2 linked regions of the Homo sapiens genome follow. The protein of the gene in region 2 purifies or fractionates together with the protein of the main gene of each other region. This does not show direct contact. Each region holds a gene or a part of one and is shown on either strand. Other genes may lie near its edges.

Evidence for each region.
Region 1: the proteins of TCTN2 (region 2) and TMEM231 purify together in Homo sapiens (affinity purification with mass spectrometry; 5 studies listed by BioGRID and IntAct, with this or other methods). This does not show direct contact.

Annotation. Positions count from the first base shown.
Region 1 is NC_000016.10:75,534,729-75,539,585, reverse strand, and holds the end of TMEM231 (transmembrane protein 231), read left to right. Parts: 3' UTR 1-2,845; downstream 2,846-4,857. UniProt on the Homo sapiens protein: Transmembrane component of the tectonic-like complex, a complex localized at the transition zone of primary cilia and acting as a barrier that prevents diffusion of transmembrane proteins between the cilia and plasma membranes.
Region 2 is NC_000012.12:123,693,965-123,703,710, reverse strand, and holds part of TCTN2 (tectonic-2 isoform 1 precursor), read right to left. Parts: intron 8,870-9,746; coding exon 8,735-8,869; intron 8,492-8,734; coding exon 8,414-8,491; intron 7,297-8,413; coding exon 7,216-7,296; intron 6,625-7,215; coding exon 6,513-6,624; intron 4,008-6,512; coding exon 3,901-4,007; intron 1-3,900.

The sequences.
Region 1 (4,857 bases), on a different chromosome or scaffold from region 2:
CAGGGCTCTCTTGTGACAAACATGCCAATCACTAGCACTTTGCACCCCTGGGCTTCTCCATTTCCCATTCACAGCTTTGATTTCCAGAGCTGAGGCCTTTAACTGGAGACCTGGAGGGGCAGGGCCCAAGGGCAAGGGCCGCATTAGCACAGGCAATCAGGGAGGGCCGCTGAAGGACACTTGGACCGTCCACCTGCCCCAGCCCAACAGTCAGTCATCTGTCATCAGCTCAGCTGAGCAGCCCTGGATCTTTGCCGTACTGTGACTGGGCTCTTTGCCCTATTTTTCCCTCTGTCTGTGCCCCTGGATGGCAGGCTGAAGTCAGAGGGGCTGTTTCATTCTCAGCCCCCTCAGCAGCACTGGGGGAAGAAAGCATTGTCACAACAGGTTCTTTCTGGCCCTCACCCAACAGCCTGGGCACTTGGCCCTCCTCCTCCTTGACAGCCCTCCCCCTTCCTGCAAAGGACAGGGGCGACAGGGGTTGGTGTTGGGATTGGCTCCCGCTGCCTGACAACCACAAGTTTATTTGGAAGGCTAGCGGGAAGCCCAGCGGCTGGCGTTTCCCTTGACTAAGGAACAGGGTGCCCATCAGAGTGGGGCGGGCAGCTTTGGGAAGGACACAAGAAGCAGTAAGAGTGTAAAGAGGATGCTGGCCTGGGCAGGCCAGTCCAGCCTGGCCACTAGCAGAATACCAAGCAGTCCAGTGGATTACCCTCGTGGCTAAGCAAGTGTCTGCAGGAGCAGAGATGGCTGGAAGGGGCCTCTGCACACGGAAGATGGCTTGTTCAGCCCATTCACCTCCTGAGGATGTGGGCAGTCTCCTCCAAGAACACATGGAGCTGCTTCCTGATCCCAAGCAGGTCATTGCCACTGGAAGGACATGGCCCCGGTGATCCATGCTTCATGCCCACCCAGAAACACACCCCTCAGTGTGTGCCTCAGTTTACTTTGGAGATCAGTTGTCGTTTTTAGTGCTCCTTTAGGCTTACTAAAACAGTTTTGGAAACAAAGCTATTTTGAAGTATTCAAGCAGAGGAATTCCCTAACACTGACCCCCTTGTCTTTTTTTAATATTCAGGCTGTTTTATATGCCTAAATTTTTTTCTTAAGATCTAAACGAAAAATAGTTTCTTGTTTAAATTCACATAAGGCAATGAGATATGGAAAGATGACAAGATACGTATAAACATTGGTTTGCATTTTATTAAATTATTCTAATGCAAATCTTGTATAAAGAACCCATGATGTTTTGTAACTTTCTAATTAAAATGTTCAAAATGAGGCCGAGCATGGTGGTTCATTCCTGTAATCTCAACACTTTGGGAGGCCAAGGTGGGAGGATCACTTGAGCCCAGGAGCTTGAGGCTGCAGTGTGCTATGATTGCACCACTGTACTGTAGCCTGGGTGACAGAGTGAGACCCTATCTGTTAAAATAAATAAATAAATAAATAAAAAAGTCAAAATGGAAGATCACATGTACCTTTTTCGAGGGAAAGGGTTTGGAATGGCAAAGAATAGGGAGGGCAGAGGTTGCACACACCTGTCTTTATTACTCATCTACAGCCATGCTTTACAAGGCTCTGCCTAACGACCTTGGAACTTCCATGAGGTCTTTGGTGAAAGTCCCCTAGTTCTTCCCCAGGTAGATGAGTTTTCAGTGGGATTCACATGCCATGTGAAATCTACGTGTTGGATAATTATGACTGTGTCTGGTGAATATGAAATTATTTACAGACCAGATGTTGATAGTTTCTGACTCTGAATCACAGCATAGCTGCAAGAGGTAAATAAAAAGCAAGAGGCCGGGAGCGGTGGCTCACGCCTGTAATCCCAGCACTTTGGGAGGCCGAGGTGGGTGAATCACAAGGTCAGGAGATCGAGACCATCCTGGCCAACATGGTGAAACCCCATCTCCACTAAAAATACAAAAATTGGCTGGGTGTGGCGACACGTGCCTGTCATCCCAACTATTTAGTAGGCTGAGGCAGGAGAATCGCTTGAACCCTGGAGGCGGAGGTTGCAGTGAGCCGAGATTGCGCCACTGCACTCCAGCCTGGCAACAGAGCTAGACTCCGTCTCAAAAAAAAAAAAAAAAAGAAATATAGAGGATTTTATTAACTCAGCTCCGACCCATAGCTAAGTTAAGGTTTGATGTTATTACTGAATATTTGGAGGCAGAAAGACTCCTGATTTTGCCAAATGATTAGTACAGTTTCGGCTTAAGTCAGATGAGGCCCCCCTAATATTCCATCATGTAAGGCTAATAAAGCAATTATTTCTTTTTTTTTTTTCCTTCCAACTTTTATTGTAGACTCATGGGGTATATGTATGGGTTTCGTATATAGCTAAATTGTACAACCTGGGGGTTTGGTGTACAGATTATTTCATCACCCACGTAATAAGCATAGTACCCAGTAGGTGGTTTTTCTTTTCTTTTTCTTTTTCTTTTTTTTTTTTTTTTTTGAGACAGAGTCTCACTCTGTTACCCAGGCTGGAGTGCAGCAGCATGATCTCAGCTCATTGCAGCCTCTACCTCCCAGGTTCAAGTGATTCTCCTGCCTTACCCTCCCGAGTAGCTGGGATTACGGGTGCCCACCACCATGCCCGGCTAATTTTTGTGTTTTTAGTAGAGACAGGGCTTCACCCTGGTGGTCAGGCTGGTCTCGAACTCCTGACCTCAAGTGATCCATCCGCTTTGGCCACCCAAAGTGCTGGGATCACAGCAGTTTGATCACAGAAGTTATTATGGTTGGCATTCTGGCACACATCTTTCTAATCTTTTTTGTTGTATGTAACCTTTTTAGTATCACAAACAACACTTTTATAAACCTTGTGTAGAAATCATTGTTGCTGGTTTATTTCCTTAAGATACATTCAGAAAACTTATGACCATTGTTAAGGATCTTAATTCATTGCCAAACCACAGCCAGGAAAGACTGCTAATTTCTACTCCCAGCAGCAGGGACTCCTCGTTTCAGATACCACCATGGATTAAAGGACCTCCCAATGCTCTATCCTTTTCAGATTACTGGACTCTGCCCGTTTGTTTCTTTGTTTTTGAGATGGAGTCTCGCTTTGTCACCCAGTCTGGAGTGCAATGGCCCCATCTCCGCTCACTGCAGCCTCCACCTCCGGGGTTCAAGCTATTCTCCTGTCTCAGCCTACCTAGTAGCTGGGATTACAGGCATGTGCTACCATGCGCGGCTAAATTTTGTATTTTCAGTAGAGATGGGGTTTTGCCACGTTGACCAGGCTGGTCTTGAACTCCTGACCTCAAGTGATCTGCCTGCCTTGCCTCCCAAAGTGCCGGGATTACAGTCATATGCCACCAGGCCAGGCTGAGCTGTTATTTGTAAGGGGTGGGTGGGGAGCTTTTATTTACTGAAACATATCCTGTATTCATTGGAACATGTTATCAAGCCTGCGCCTCTGGGCGGAGGCTAGGGCAGGGAGGGCACAGCTCCTAAGGCCACCTGGTCTTTCAACTCCTCCCAGCTGGGACACTGCACCGGGAGGCAGCACGGATTCCTGTGTCATCAAGGTGCCTGGGTCTTGGCTTAGGGCTGAGGTTGGGGCCTTGGGAAGGGTTTGGATTCCAAGTCCCTTGGCTGCAAGGATGCCCCCAAGAGCGAGGAGGGCCAAGATTAAGATTCGACTTCCTTCACTAGGGCCTTTGTCCTCCCAGGAGCTCCCAGGTTCTCTGGCGATTGGGGGGGTGAGGAAGGGTTACAACGTTCATTTGTGGTCAGTTAGATGAGAAGTGACTCTGCCAGCGTCCTTTGACATCCCCGGCTAAAAGGTGCGCCTCTTAGAGCCCCAGCCCACCTGGGCCCTCCTGCTCTGCCCTCGGCCAGCGCCCCTCCCCGAGACATGGCCCCTCGGTCGGGGGTGGGGAGAGGGAGCTGGGGGCAAAACCTGCTCCTTCCTTCCTTCTCCCATTTCCCTGGCTCCCGCCGGCCACCCTGGGACCGCAGCCACGTCTGAAAGCTCCTCACCAGGCAGCGCTGAAGATTGCGGGGCAGCGCCGAGGGTTGTTGGCCGGCGCGCGGGGAGTAGAGGGCGCGGGCCGCAGTGCCGGGCTCCGGAGGGAGCTCTGCGCCGGGTCCTTCCCTGTGGTAGCCCCAGGACACCCCCATCCTCAACATCCCATTCTGGGACTCCTGCCCTGTTCCCAGATTCGCTCTGCCTCGAGTCTCCAGGAGCTTCCAGTGGCTTGGTTACCCCCGACTCTTCGTCCATGCCTCTTAGAGCCCCTTTCCCAGCCTCACTGGGTGTCCCTTAATAGTCTTGGGACCTTAAGGAGCAAGTCAGCCCCTGCGGAACCTCCCAGTGAAGAGAAAGAGCTGGCTGTGCGGTGGAACTTGGAAGAGACGACGTCTGGGAGCTTTTGCTGAGCCCAGGGGGAGAGGCGTCCCTCTGGCTGCTGCTCCAGCTCTGGCAGACACGCCAAGCTTTGAGGTACTTTGGTTCTTCATTCTCCACCGGAGGTGTCCCCACACTCGGTTGGGCTGGGGGCCGGGCCAGTGGCCCAGCTGTGACGCTCCTCTGTCCTGCACCAGAGACCTGGGTTGGCGGGAAGAGCTGGGGGTGGCTTTTCCATCAGCAACGTGGAAAGTTCATCTCCCCTGCTAGCGCTGGTTTGGAAGTGTCTTGCTGGGGCTTCGGCTGCACGCGGGAATCCTCACTGCGCAGGGCAGGGGTCGGGGTGCGGGTTCTTATTCCATACTTGGGTCTCAAAGGGTGTGGCTTTCAAAAGCTCTCCATGAAATTCTTGAGAAAAAATAGCTTGGTGAGTTAATTTGCAACCAGACTCAGGGGAAGTGGAGTCGTGCCTCACTGCCTCTAGGGCCTTGATG
Region 2 (9,746 bases):
TGAGACCAGCCTGGGCAACATAGCAAAACCCTGTCTCCTCGAGAAAAATAAAATAGCCAGTCATGGTGGCACACACCTGTAGCACACACCAGCTACCCAGAAGGCTGAGGTGAGAGGATTGCTTCAGCCTGGGAAGTCAAGGCTGCAGTAAGCCGTGATGGCATGGCACCACTACATTCCAGCCTGGACAAAAGTGAGAACCTCATCTCAAAAAATAAAAATAAAAATCAGTCGGGCGTGGTGGCTCACGCCTGTAATCCCAACACTTTGGGAGGCTGAGGTGGGTGGATGACCTGAGGTCAGGAGTTCGAGACCAGCCTGGCCAACATGGTGAAACCCTGTCTCTACTAAAAATACAAAAATTGGCCAGGTATGGTGGCGCACACCTGTAATCCCAGCTACTTGGGAGGCTGAGGCAGGAGAATCACTTGAAACCTGGGAGGTGGAGGTTGCAGTGAGCCGAGATCATGCCACTGCACTCCAGCAACAAAGTGAGACTCCATCTCAAAAAAAAAATAATGATAATAATTGAAAAAAAAATAATAATAAAACAAAATCCACACTAACGACTTTAATTAGTATGTATTAGATAGGTAAGTAATTTCCTAATGTGTTACCATAGTATTAATACAATTGGAAGAGAATGAAATTGAATGAGAAATGAATTTGCATTCGTCTTGGAGAAAACCCAGCAAGGTCAATTGGAGGAAGTAGGGTAGGTTCTATGGCTCCTCTGAAGGGGGTTCTTTGCTCCTTCAGGGATTCCGAAGGTCAGTAACACTGTTTTATGTCTAATTTCCTTATACATGTGTCAACACCACTTCTCTTCTGCTTATTAACCAGGATCAAGGTTGCTTTTTGGCTCAGACATGAAATAAAAGCTAACCCCTTCCACCTTGAAGGCAACAAAATGTCATCACCACACTGATTTCGTACCTCATCAACCTGGGTTCTCCGTCTGGACATTTTCCCTACCGTTTATTTCCCAACTGCTGACTTTTCTCCAGCCCTCAGGGTCATTCCACAGCCTATCTAGCTGGCCTGGGTGGCAGAGCCCAGGGCTTGACAAGCTCGACCTCTGGGTTCCGTTTGCAAATGAGGATCTAGGTCTGGGCCCAGTGCCTTGAGCACCAGCTAGATGAGCAAACAGCAGCCTGAGTGCCCCGTGGGGGTGGAGTCCAACAGGACTCCCTCCCCAAGTCAGAGAGTGGTCTGGGGCACCTCAAGCTCACAGACATATCACATTATCCATGACCAAGAGGGGGAAGGGAGGGTCCTCATCACCATGACCCCAATCACAAGGAGTAGGCACAATACAGGTGTGTGTCTGTATGGGCCGTTGTGTGAATTCCAGCCTACTGAGCCTAGCTGACCTCAGAGGAGATGGAAAGGGTAGGGACAGGATCCAGAGGGCTGATCCCTACCCACCAGGCAGAGGAGAGGGGCAGAGCAGCATCTGCAGGGAGAGCTGGGCAGGGGCAAAGCAGATGCGCACACTCATTGGGCTCTTTCTGGTCCCAAAAGGCAATTCCATTAATTAGCTCAATAAAAAAAGCTTTCCATTCAAAGTATTTACAGACTCAAGGCTCCCCAAGAAACCGGGAAGTTACCTAACTTGCTACCAGGGAACAGAGGAAAGAGGTTGGAACCCCAGGTTTTCATTCTAGCTCTGCCAAAACTCACTGTGACCTTAGGCCTCTCCAACATAACCCGATGAGCTGGATCTCCATGACTCAAAGGATATTTTGGATTCAGAGGTGAAATCAGGCCTGATGAAGAAGCTTTAAAGTCTGGTTTACCTTTATTCCATGTACATGTGGTATATCTTTTTCCCTTTGTGTACGAGCTACTTGCCAATTCAACACTGCAAATACCTTTGGCCAGAGGCACTGAGCTGTCAAGTCTTTCTATCTGGCCCCCATGATCCCTGCTATTATTAGATCTGTTGCACCCTTTTTTTTTTTTTGTGAGACGGAGTCTTGCTCTGTCGCCCAGGCTGGAGTGCAGTGGCGCAATCTCGGCTCACAGCAAGCTCCGCCTCCCGGGTTCCTACCATTCTCCTGCCTCAGCCTCCCGAGTAGCTGGGACTACAGGCGCCCACCACCACGCCCGGCTAATTTTTTTTTTTTATTTTTAGTAGAGACGGGGTTTCACCTGTGTTAGGCAGGATGCTCTCGATCTCCTGACCTCGTGATCCACCCGCCTCGGCCTCCCAAAGTGCTGGGATTACAGATATGAGCCACCGTGCCCAGCCGATCTGTTGCACCTTAATTACTTTCTTTCCTGACAGCTTTATTGAGATATAATTCACATACTATACAATCCACCTACTTAAAGTGTGCAATTCGATGGTTTCTGGTATAGTCACAAAGCTGTGACTATCAGCAGATTCTATTTTAGAACATTTTATCACTCTGCGAAGAAATCCTTTACCCACGGCAGTCTCTCCCCATTTCCTCCCAACTCCTCCACCTCCGGCATCCACTAATCTGCTGTCTCTATACATTGCCCATTCTGGACATTGCATATAAATTGAGTCATACAATATGTGGTCTTTTGTGTCTGGCTTCTATCACAATATTTTCAATCACTTTATTTTCTTTTAAGTTAACAAAATTACCTTTATAAATTACAAAGTCAATTCTCAAATGCCTGTATTCCTGGCAATCAAAAACAGCAATGCAAACTGAAGTGCACTAACAATCTTCAAACCTTGCTTGGACTTTGTTTTAATGTATTTTATTTTATTTTGTTTTATTTTTAGAGTCAGGATCTTGCTCTGTCATCCAGGTTGGAGTGTGATGGTGTAATCAGAGCTCACTGTAGCCTCAAACTCCTAGGCTCCAGCGATCCTCTTTCCTCAGCATCCCAAGTAGCTGGGACTGCAGGGACATGCCACCACATTCGACTAATTTTTTAAATTTTTCATAGAGACAAGGTCTCACTATGTTGCCCAGGCTGGTCTTAAACTCCTGGCCTCGGCCTGGCACGGTGGCTAACGCCTATAATCCCAGCACTTTGGGAGGCCGAGGCAGGTGGATCACGGGGTCAGGAGTTCGAGACCAGCCTGGCCAACATGGTGAAACCCCGTCTCTATTTAAAAAATACAAAAATTAGCCAGGTGGTGGTGGGCGCCTGTAATCCCAGCTACTTGGGAGGCTAAGGCAGGAGAATCACCTGAACCTAGGAGGCAGAGGTTGCAGTGAGCCGAGATTGTGCCATTGCACTCCAGCATGGGTGACAAGAGCAAGACTCCGTCTCAAAAAAAACCAACCAAACAAACAAAAAAACTGGCCTCAAGCAATCCTCTTGCATTGACCTCCCAAAGTGCTGGGATTATAAGTGTGAGCCACTGCTCCCAGCCTAGACTTTCTTTCACAAAGACTGTTGTTGGCCAGGCGCAATGGCTCATGCCTGTAATCCCAACATGGTTGGGGTTTAAGAGGTTGGGGTGGGCAGATCACTTAAGCCCAGGAGTTAATGACCAGCCTGGGCAACATGGCGAAACCCATTTCTACAAATAATAAAAAAATTAGCCAGATGTGGTGGCGCACACCTGTGGTTCCAGCTACTTGGAAGGCTGAGGCGGGAGGATCCCTTGAGCCTGGGAGGATGAGGAGGCAATGAGCTGTGATTGCACCACTGCACTCCAGCCTGGGTGACAGAATGAAACCCTGTCTCAAAAAAACAAAAACAGAAAATCAAAAAAGTCATTGTGAATAAGAAGAAAAAGACATGCCAAGTTTCCTGCCTGGAGATCTAACCCCTGGGCAAACGTCCAGTTAAGCCGCAGTCAAGCCTCAGGAAGATGACCTACTGGGTTGGGCTCTAATGCTGCGACTACAGTTGGTAGTCACAGCAACCAAGTTACAGGCTTTATTGTACCCGGGTTTGACTTACGTATTATTTCGAGCCAGCCATCACTAAGATCAGCGTAATCGGAGTTGCCTCTCATTGCAACGTGAGTCGCTTGTATTAATGAATCAAGTCTTTCAACAGCATTCTCCCTGCAAGAGAGTAAGACATTTCTCAGCTCATGGCCAGCAGGTCTTGTCCTAAAGTCATTTCCAGTGAATGTCCGGGTTTCACTTCCGAGTGCCTAAATTAAAAACTGCCAGAGGAACTGGCATTAAAAACTGGCTGGGTGTCACCCATGGACTAGGTGTGTCTGATGGCCTTCCCAGGATGGACCCACACACCTGGGGGAGAACATACAGAAGCAATCTTTTACTTTAGACTTAAAATGTTAGTAACTTGGCCGGGTGCAGTGGCTCACACCTGTAATCCCAACCCTTTGGGAGGCTGAGGTGGGAGGATTGCTTGAGCTCAGGAGTTCAAGACCAGCCTGGGCAACAGGGCAAAACCCTGCCTCTACAAAAAATACAAAAATTAGCCAGGCATGGTGGTATGCACCTATAGTTCCAACTACTTGGGAGGCTGAGGTGGGAGGAGCGCATAAGCCTGGTGGGGTTAAGGCTACAGTGAGCTGAGATCGTACCACTGCACTCCAGCCTGGGTGACAGAGCAAGATCCTGTCTCAAAAAAAAAAAAAAAATGTTAGTAACTTAAGTTGGGAATCACATGGTTCACAAACTCTGCCGACTGTCACCAAACTTAGGAGGTAGTTAGAGCACACATCAAGTTAGCAGGATACATTCGTGGGCCAGAGTGATCCAACAGTAAAAGTAACCTATATATCTAGCTGGAATTTTGAGTCATAAAATTAAGTGAAGACTAAGAGTTGGAACGTAGCATTCCCTCCTTCCCAGTACTGTCACTGGAGGGTACAAATCTCATGAACTGCAGGAGAGGGACTCTGCCCATGGACTCAGGCCTCAAAACCTATAATCAGGAGCTGCTGCCAATAATTTATACCAGTTTTCCTTAACTTCTCAATGTTACCCCCATTTCTTCCTGCTTCCCAAAGAACTACACATCTTGGGATATGTAACAGATAAAACGTGTGTAAGAGTGCATGCAGGCCGGGCATAATGGTTCATGCTTGTAACCCCAGCACTTTGGGAGGCCAAGGCAGGAGGATCGTTTGAGCCCAGCAGTTTGAGAGCAGCCTGAGCAACACGGTGAAACCCCATCTCTACAAAAAATACGAAAAATCAGCCAGGCACACACCTGTACTCCAAGATACTCGGGAGGGTGAAGTGGGAGGATCACCTGAGCTCAAGAGGGTCAGGCTGCAACGAGCCGTGATCACACCACTGCGCTCCAGTCTGGGTGATGGAGTGAGACCTTGTCTCAAAAAACAAGCCAAAAAGAACGCATGCAATCAAAACCACAATGAGATACCACTTAGTATCTATTAGGATGGCTACTGTCAAAAAAAAAAACAAAAACAAAAAAACAAAAAACAAGGCTGGGCACAGTGGCTCACACCTGTAATCCCAGCACTTTAGGAGGCTGAGGAGGGCAGATCACCTGAGGTCAGGAGTTCAAGACCAGCCTGACTAACATGGAGAAACCCCATCTCTACTAAAAATACAAAATTAGCCAGGTGAGGTGGCACATGCCTGTAATCCCAGCTACTCAGGAGGCTGAGGCAGGAGAATCACTTGAACCTGGGAGGCAGAGGCTGCAGTGAGCTGAGATTATGCCATTGCACTCCAGCCTGGGCAACAAGAGTGAAACTCTGTCTCAAAACAAAAACAAAAACAAAAACAGAACATAGGCCAGCAGAGTGACTCATGCCTGTAATCCCAGCACTTTAGGAAGCCAAGGCAGGTGGAGGACCACCTGAGCCTGGGGAGGTTGGGGCTGCAGTAAGCCATGATTGCACCACTGCACCCGAGCCTGGGAAACACAGTGAGACCCTGTCTCAAAAAAAAAAAAAAAAAAGTTAATCACCCCAGTTACACTTTGCTCTGGCCTTTTTCATAGCTCTAGGAGTATAAGGTTCCAATGAGGCCAGGCGCGGTGGCTTACGCCTATAATCCCAGCACTTTGGGAGGCCAAGGTGGGCAAGGTCACTTGAGGTTAGGAGTTTGAGACCAACATTGTGAAACCCCATCTCTACTAAAAATACAAAAAAAATCAGCAGGCGTGGTGGTGCATGCCTGTAATCCCAGCTGCTAGGGAGGCTAAGGCAGGAGAATTGCTTGAACCGGAGAGGCAGAAGCTGCAATGAGCCGAGATCGCACCACTGCACTCCAGCCTAGGTGACAAAGTGAGACTTCATCTCAACAAAAAAAACCACACAACAACAACAAAAAAGGTTCCAATGAGCTGAACAAACTTTGGCAGAGACATTTGTTTAAATGTGGATGAAATTTGCTTAAATGTGGATGAACTGGCTTTAGTCCCAAGAAAAAGTTTATTTTCCCTCATATTGATGTTTGAATCAACTCTAAATTGTATTACATGTCTGTATTTATTATCACTTTTACACATTTTAATTGACTCTAATTTTTCATATTCATGCTGTCTTTGATATTCATGTAGTGAATTAATTCTAGGCAAACCATTCACATTGCCGATATATTCATCAATGAAACACTCACCTGAGCTGAGTACAATTTTCATTAATCCCGACTTCTAACAGGCATCCAGAGAGTACATTTTCTCCAAATAAAATGGGTTTGAAAGTTGCTGATGTACACAGACCCCTTCCAGCTATAAAAGAAAAAGATTATCCTCTTGCTACTTTTTGCTAAACAAAAGTAAAGATTAACTTCAGTTTTCCGTGAAAAACAGAAAACAGTAAGTAGAAATAAAGTTGCCAGTTTTCAAAAACTGAGATCACTGTTAGTCTAATCCTTTCAAAGCTGAACAAAGGTGCCTTTATCAGACTTCTCAGATCCTGAGCGGTGGTTTCTTCAGAAGTGACACTGCCTCTGGCAGGTGTGCGTAATTACCACTGAAGCACAGATTTCCTGCAGTTCAGAACGAAGTTATTTTCATGTCTCCAATTAGCACCATCCTGGGCTACAGGCAACAATAACATGGGACTCTCAAGCCAATCTCATATTTCAATCTTTTCTACTAGCAACCAGCACTTCAGGTGCAAACAATGTTAGCATTCCTTTTTAAAAAGCTGTAGAAGCAGGAAAAACCATCATCACTGTTATTCAGCAGCATGTACCTCTCTGCTAAATAAACCAACTAGGCTTTAAAATAATTGATTGCTTGATTAGATTCAAAATATGGTAATACTTCTAACACCAATTTGCCAAAGGGCTAATCATAATGACCAAACCGGATTACCCGATTGCCAAAGATGTAAAGTCGTGACATTATTCATCCTGTTGATATTTAGAGCTCGGACAGGCTTGCCAAGTTGGTAACCTAGACAAACACAACAAAGGAACGTGAGCCTGTTTCCTCCAGCATAGCAAGCCCTAACTCTGCAAATAATACAAGAGTCATGCACAAGGAAAGAAAACACATAGGCGAAGCTTTCGAAAATACCCTTGAGAGAAAGATGGCAACTTCGGGTCTCAAAAAAAACAGTAGCTAAAGAGAAAGAATGCTTCACATTTACAGCAACTTGTTACTATGTACAACAGACTATGTAAAAAAAAAAAATACATTGTTATCACAAAAAGAATACCATGTCGGCCAGGCGTAGTGGCTCACGCCTGTAATCCTAGCACTTTGGGAGGCCGAGGTGGGTGGATCACCTGAGGTCAGGAGTTCGAGACCAGTATGGCCAATATGGCAAAACCTCATCTCTACTAAAAGTACAAAAATTTGCTGAGGGTGTTGGTGGGCACCTGTAATCCCAGCTACTTGGGAGGCTGAGGCAGGAGAATTGCTTGAACCTGGAAGGTGGAGGTTGCAGTGAGCCCAAATCGTGCCATTGCACTCCAGCCTGGGTGACAAGAGTTAAACTCCGTCTCAAAAAAAAAAAAAATGAATACAGTGCCACAACAGAGAATAAAGAGGCTGGGGCAGTGGCTCATGCCTGTAATCACAACACTTTGGGAGGCTAAGGCCAGGGGATCACTTGAGGTCAGGAATTCAAGACCAGCCTGGCCAACACGGTGAACAACAGCCTATCTCTACTAAAAATATAAAAATTATATTAAAGTGAGCAACCCTGCAAGCCTCTCTTTGGAGAAGTAGCAGATGAATAAAACTTCCTGTGTTGTGTGATTAAAAAAAAAAAAAAAAAGCCAGGCATGGTGGTGTGCACCTGTAATCCCAGCTACTCAGGAGGCTGAGGCAAGAAAATCTCTTGAACCCAGGAGGTGCAGGTTGCAGTGAGCCGAGATTGCGCCACTGCACTCCAGACTAGGCAACAGAGCAAGACTCCGTCTCAAAAAAAGAAAAAGAGAAAATAAAGAAAAAGGTCAGAGTCAGAAACTAAATTGGAGAGAGTTACTTATAACCATCCTGATGGCTGGGAGTGTTGAACTAAAGTATGTTTGTAAGATCAATGACTGGCATATACTCATCTTACCTGGATTTCCAGATAATTCTTCTTCATTACCACTATTATAGCTTAAAAATTTTACTACAAATCTCTGTGTCATTATCCCTAGAAATAAAACAAAATAAAATATAATGTGCACCATTTCACTAGGAAAAGAAATTATTCTCCATAGTGTTTACCTTAAAATTGCATTTTGTCATACAAAGTGTACTCTCGTTAATTAAATCATAAATGCACATAAGAAACAAGTCCAACTTAGTTTTATGGGTTATAATTATGAGAATCTTGAAAAGAGGAAAAAAAAATACTTTTCAGTGAAAGCATGCTTGCTACCCTCATCAAAGTTACCTTTCTGGTGGGCATTAATCTCTGCCCTAAAAATTTTAACATTTATTTCACTGATGGTATTATTATTCCATTTGAAAATATAATGTTCTTCCACATTCACAATTCTAGGGGTTGATCCGTTATTTAAAGGAGTTTCTGCAAATACAAGAATATGTTCATAAATTAAAGACCCTCTTTGAGCCTGACTCTGTTACTGGGAGGTTCTCTCTGCTTGCGTGGCCTTCCCCAAGTGCCCTGCCCCTGCCCTCCCTATCTCCAGCTCCCTAACATGGCACGGTCACTGCTTCCTTGAGGAAGCCTGCCCTGGTCCCACCAAGTCAGCATTAGCTGCCTCCTCTATGCCATCACAGTACCCAGAATGAGATCTGTTCCTTTCATTTCTATATCTCCAGCACCTGGCTCATAGCTTGCCATGGAGCATGCACTTGGTAAAATGTTTGTGAGATGAAAGACCAGAGGGTCAGTTCCGCCAGGGCAGGGGCCCGCTATCTAGTTCCCTACTACGGCGTAGGAACTCCACTAACATTTGATGAGCCAATGAATAAATTTGAGAAGTACAACACATCAGAAAGAGACACCCAGCACTTGGGGAGGCCGAGGTGGGCAGATCACCTGAGGTCAAGAGTTCGAGACCAGCCTGGCCAGCATGGCGAAACCCTGTCTCTACTAAAAATACAAAAATTAGGCCGGGTGCGGTGGCTCACGCCTGTAATCCCAGCACTTTGGGAGGCTGAGGCAGGCAGATCACGAGGTCAGGAGTTCAAGACCAGCCTGGCCAACACAGTGAAACCCCCTCTCTACTAACAATACAAAAAATCAGCCAGGCATGGGGGCAGGCACCTGTAATCCCAGCTACTCGGGAGGCTGAGGCAGAAGAATCGTTTGAACCCAGGAGGCAGAGGTTGCAGTGAGTGGAGACTGTGTCACTACACTCCAGTCTGGGTGACAGTGAGACTGTCTCAAAAAAAAAAAAATACAAAAAAATACAAAAATTAGCCGGGATTGGTGGCAG